Regions from separate parts of the Homo sapiens genome. Here region 1 is linked to region 2. Evidence: fine-mapped expression QTL. A gene starts in region 2. The other region holds a variant in brackets. All regions are shown on one strand. Distances are between the middles of the regions. Region 1 overlaps LINC02994 (long intergenic non-protein coding RNA 2994). Region 2 holds the start of MRPS18C (mitochondrial ribosomal protein S18C).

The links. PIP is the estimated chance that this variant, and not a neighbour inherited with it, causes the effect.
Region 1: its variant is fine-mapped to the expression of MRPS18C in lymphoblastoid cells (GTEx, PIP 0.97).

Annotation. Positions count from the first base shown.
Region 1 is chr4:84,130,944-84,133,869 of GRCh38, reverse strand. The region is part of intron 7 of LINC02994 (long intergenic non-protein coding RNA 2994); the gene reads left to right. Among named protein-coding and RNA genes, the nearest start is that of LINC02994, 170 kb to the left of the region's middle. The variant T/C (reference allele first, on the strand shown) is at 1,415.
Region 2 is chr4:83,454,400-83,457,325 of GRCh38, reverse strand. MRPS18C (mitochondrial ribosomal protein S18C) reads right to left here and starts at 1,268. Exons shown (of 6, transcript NM_016067.4): 1 at 1,149-1,268; 2 at 368-417. The coding sequence starts at 1,248. HELQ (helicase, POLQ like) reads left to right here and starts at 1,503. Exons shown (of 18, transcript NM_133636.5): 1 at 1,503-1,929. The coding sequence starts at 1,633. RefSeq lists enhancers at 1,216-1,510, 1,497-1,606, 1,947-1,996, 1,425-2,255.

The DNA of each region.
Region 1 (2,926 bases), 680 kb before region 2:
GAGAGCATGCTCCTTACATTTTACTGTTGAAAGGTATTTGTGCTCTAGGCTTTTGTTAGATATCTTTCATCATATTCAGGAAATTTAATTTATTGTGAGTATAAGGTTTTTTGAAATCATTAATGGTTGTTGAATTTTAGGTAATAAATCTTCCTGCACTTATGAGACAACAAATAATAACTTTTAATGAGTTAATGTATTAAATTACTTAATAGATTTCTTAATTATAAATCATTCTTTCAGATCCAGAATGAGTCTTCTTTGGTCATAATTAATTTAAAAAAATATTTCTGGAATCATTGACTAATATGTTATTTAGGATTTTTGCTTCTGTAATAAAGCATAGCTTATAAATTTTCTTCTTTGTACTTTCCTAATCCATTTTATGTATGAAATATATATTATTATTTCTAAAATAAGTTGGAGAGCTCTTGTTCCTTTTTCTAGCCCATAAAACAATTTATATAAATAGAAGTTTTTTCCTTGGAAGGCCTGCAAAATCTGTGAAATTGTATGAGTCCTTTGCTTTTATTTGAGGGCAAGTTGTACGACTGATGTGATTTCTTTAATAGATCTAGTCAGTGTTTAATTTCTTTCTTTTTTTTTTTTTTTCACCCTGTTCTAATTTTATTTCTGTCTTTTCTTCCTGAAGAAATGACCTAACCACCCAGGCTCACCTTCACATATTCATTGCCATTCTGTGGCTCTTCTGCCTTTAGGAAGTGTGGGGCACCAGGGACTCCTGTAATGACATGAACCTGACCGAGGGCTTGTGCAGCTGCCAGTTATTACTTTGGCTATTACACTTTTCCCTGCCTTTGTTGTTTCTTTGTTTGTTTGGGGCAACAAAAACAAGACAGGCAATCAGACATGGCCCAGATTCTCAAATGTGCATTCTTGTCACAGCTGGGCCTCCATTCTAAGTCCATCTTGCATTGAGGCAACATGTTTATGCTTAGTGTAGTGCTTGGCATGTTGTAAGAGCTTATTAAATGCTTCTATCAGAAGAGTCATTTTCAAAATGTCACTTTTACTATATTACTCTCTTGATAAACTTTTTTTTTTATTATTATACTTTAAGTTCTAGGGTACATGTGCACATTGTGCAGGTTAGTTACATATGTATACATGTGCCATGCTGGTGCGCTGCACCCACTAACTCGTCATCTAGCATTAGGTATATCTCCCAATGCTATCCTTCCCCCCTCCCCCTACCCCACAACAGTCCCCAGAGCGTGATATTCCCCTTCCTGTGTCCATGTGATCTCATTGTTCAATTCCCACCTATGAGTGAGAATATGCAGTGTTTGTTTTTTTGTTCTTGCGATAGTTTACTGACAATGATGATTTCCAATTTCATCCATGTCCCTACAAAGGACATGAACTCATCATTTTTTATGGCTGCATAGTATTC[T/C]ATGGTGTATATGTGCCACATTTTCTTAATCCAGTCTATCACTGTTGGACATTTGGGTTGGTTCCAAGTCTTTGCTATTGTGAATAATGCCGCAATAAACATACGTGTGCATGTGTCTTTATAGCAGCATGATTTATAGTCCTTTGGGTATATACCCAGTAATGGGATGGCTGGGTCAAATGGTATTTCTAGTTCTAGATCCCTGAGGAATCGCCACACTGACTTCCACAATGGTTGAACTAGTTTACAGTCCCACCAACAGTGTCAAAGTGTTCCTATTTCTCCACATCCTCTCCAGCACCTGTTGTTTCCTGACTTTTTAATGATTGCCATTCTAACTGGTGCGAGATGGTATCTCATTGTGGTTTTGATTTGCATTTCTCTGATGGCCAGTGATGATGAACATTTTTTCATGTGTTTTTTCGCTGCATAAATGTCTTCTTTTGAGAAGTGTCTGTTCATGTCCTTTGCCCACTTTTTGATGGGGTTGTTTGTTTTTTTCTTGTAAATTTGTTTAAGTTCCTTGTAGATTCTGGATATTAGCCCTTTGTCAGATGAGTAAGTTGCGAAAATTTTCTCCCATTTTGTAGGTTGCCTGTTCACTCTGATGGTAGTTTCTTTTGCTGTGCAGAAGCTCTTTAGTTTAATTAGATCCCATTTGTCAATTTTGTCTTTTGTTGCCATTGCTTTTGGTGTTTTAGACATGAAGTCCTTGCCCATGCCTATGTCCTGAATGGTAATGCCTAGGTTTTCTTCTAGGGTTTTTATGGTTTTAGGTCTAACGTTTAAGTCTTTAATCCATCTTGAATTGATTTTTGTATAAGGTGTAAGGAAGGGATCCAGTTTCAGCTTTCTACATATGGCTAGCCAGTTTTCCCAGCACCATTCATTAAATAGGGAATCCTTTCCCCATTGCTTGTTTTTCTCAGGTTTGTCAAAGATCAGATAGTTGTAGATATGCGGCGTTATTTCTGAGGGCTCTGTTCTGTTCCATTGATCTATATCTCTGTTTTGGTACCAGTACCGTGCTGTTTTGGTTACTGTAGCCTTGTAGTATAGTTTGAAGTCAGGTAGTGTGATGCCTCCAGCTTTGTTCTTTTGGCTTAGGATTGACTTGGTGATGCGGGCTCTTTTTTGGTTCCATATGAACTTTAAAGTAGTTTTTTCCAATTCTGTGAAGAAAGTCATTGGTAGCTTGATGGGGATGGCATTGAATCTGTAAATTACCTTGGGCAGTATGGCCATTTTCATGATATTGATTCTTCCTACCCATGAGCATGGAATGTTCTTCCATTTGTTTGTATCCTCTTTTATTTCCTTGAGCAGTGGTTTGTAGCTCTCCTTGAAGAGGTCCTTCACATCCCTTGTAAGTTGGATTCCTAGATATTTTATTCTCTTTGAAGCAATTGTGAATGGAAGTTCACTCACGATTTGGCTCTCTGTTTGTCTGTTGTTGGTGTATAAGAATGCTTGTGATTTTTGTACATTGATTTTGTATCCTGAGACTTTGCT
Region 2 (2,926 bases):
ACCCAAACTACCTTTTAAAATTCCCATATCATTTGCTTACAAAGGGCTATGTAAAAAAAAAAAAAACAATTCCCAAATCACATATCCTTAAATTTAAGATCTAGGAAGAAAAATATGGTATTATAGCAGCTTTGCTTCTAATCTAGGAATTCCCCTACTTCAAAACTCAGCTGACTACATGACTACAATCAATTCATCATCATTTCTGAACTCAGAGTAATTATCAAATTGTTTTGTCCTACGGCAGAACTCTATTCAAGTAGCTAAAATAAAAGATGTTAGAGTCTAATACCAGATCTCGTTTTAAAAAGAAAAACATTTTGGTCATATTTGCAAAGGCCTTACTAATAGAAAAAAAAATTCTTACCAGGTCCTCATTGCTGGATACCTGTTGTGAACAACCTCTTCTCCAAAGCACTGCGATTAAACAGAAACAGCAATTAACCATTTCTTTTTCTTAGCTGAATAGCTAAAGATTTTTGTTTTTATGGAGACAGGATGAATTAAGGGACACGATATTAAAGAAAGGTTTTGTATTATATTCAGAATGGTTAAAAACTTTTATATTTGGGACAGAGTAAGACTCAACATGGGTGTGCTTTCCAGGGCTTAGGGGGAAAAGAACATATTTTCCCGCCCATACCTGCTCTTTCTGACATTTATTTTCCCTTCATTCCATGGTTAGAGAAAATTCTTAATGCAAATTCTTATAGGAGAAGCAACAGAAAGGCACTGTCATACCAAAAAGAAAGTAACAGACCCGTCCCAGAAAGAATTTATAGAGAAGCACAGAGAAGATAAAATTGCAAAAATTATGCAATTTTGTTCTGTTTGGGGACCTTAGACATCTGGAATTTGCTGCTGGGCGACTCTGGAAATGTCCCTTCCTCACTAAGATTATCCAGAGATCTTAGGAAAGTCTCTGCTTTTTAAGAACCACTCCAACTTCCTCATACGTTTAAATACTTTAAAGGAGTGGATTAGACGACACTAAAACAGTCAAAGGCAATTACAGATTCCCACCCATCTTGGAGAAACTTAATCGCCTAGAAACCAGAGTCGTTTTGCTAACAGGGACGACTCTAACCATTAGGACTAAGGTTAATGCCTGCAGCGCTACAATGGAGCATAGGATATGGAGACTTTACCCGTGTGAGTCCCGGGATGTGTAAGGCTGACAGCAGCCGTTACCAAGTGTGTCAACTTCTTCCTCCCTAGACCACCGCAAACAGCAACCACAGCGGCCATGGTTCCGCGTTTCTTCCACTTCCTTTCGTTCCAAATCGTTCCGAAAGGCCCCTTCCGCTGCTCTTCCCCTGTGGGCTCGAGTACCCCGTTCAAAGGTTCCGCAGGAGAACGCTGAGGACCCGCGAGAGTAGGTGAGGTTTTTCAATACGCATGCGCAGCACCTTTCTGTTCGTGCCCTCCCTACGCGGCAGGTCACGTGAGGCTTATGATTGGACAGGGTAGAAGTTTATGCGTGCTTCCGGTCCGCGAGCCCTGAGAGCTAACTTGGGGTCTTTTCCCAAGGTGGATGTAGAAGCGGGCTCCGGCGTCCCACTCTCCCTTCCATATGGGCTTAGCGTCTGGGTCACTGAGAACGACGTCTGAATAGGGCCCTGGGTCCTTGCCATGGATGAATGTGGTTCCCGCATCCGCCGGCGGGTGTCTCTCCCCAAAAGGAACCGTCCAAGCTTGGGGTGTATTTTTGGCGCTCCCACCGCGGCCGAGCTCGTGCCCGGAGATGAGGGGAAAGAGGAGGAGGAAATGGTGGCTGAGAACAGGAGGCGGAAAACCGCGGGCGTACTGCCGGTTGAGGTACAGCCCCTTCTACTCTCAGATTCCCCGGAATGTCTCGTCCTTGGAGGTGGTGATACAAACCCGGACCTCCTACGTCACATGCCCACTGACAGAGGGGTGGGAGACCAGGTACGGAGGACTTGGAACTTGAAACTGCAAACTTTTGGCATCCTTCCCAGATGCAAAGAGTTGACCAGTTTTATCGCCTTCGTTTACTTCTCTCGTCTTCGTTACCACTGTTAATCGGCACTTAGGAGGTATTGATTGCCTTGTTATTTACATTTCTATATAAATATGAAATGTAAACCCCGAGACATAAAAGTTGTGCACGCAGCAGTTAAGTGGCATGACTGAGACACAAATCTAGGCTTCCAGATAACTGCAGCTCCTACTGTACAAATAAAATCTGCTGTTTATTGAAGACCCGTTATGTTAAGCTAGTTATATTATCTAGATTTTACGACAGTAATCAGGCCCTGAAAAGTTGAGATAGTACAGTTCTTGCTCCAAATCCTGTTGTCTTAATCACTTTACTATATTGCTGCCTCCAGGTTTGTGTGTCTTCTGTGTAGCAGACCACTCCAAGTCAGTATTCAGTTTCTCAGTCTCAATTCCAAATTCCTAGGAACTCCTTGGAGTGTCTAGTGGTACAACCATGTTTCTGTTAGAGGCCAGTCACTGTAGATTGTAGTCTGGGAGGGAAGCGCTGCAGTTATCAGAAACTTCGAATGCGCTGACATTTCAGTAGACGTCTACCAGTCTTCCTGCTGTTTTAGTACAGCTTTAAGAATTACAATCTGGCCGTGTGCAGTGGCTCATGCCTATAATCCCAGTGCTTTAGGAGGCAGAGATGGGAGGATCACTTAAGCCCAGAAGTTCGCGTTCAAAACCAGCCTAGGCAACAGAGACCCAGTCTCTACAAAAAAAAAAAAAAATTTTTTTTTCTTAATTAGCCGGGTGTGGTGGCCTGCACCTGTAGTCCTAGCTACTTGGGAGGCTGAGGCAGGAGGATCGCTTGAGCCCAGGATGTCAAGACTGCAGTGAGCTGTGATCGTGCAGTGGCTGGAGCCACTGTGCTCCAGCCTGGGTGACAGAGCCAGACCCTGTCTCAAAAATTAGAATCTCA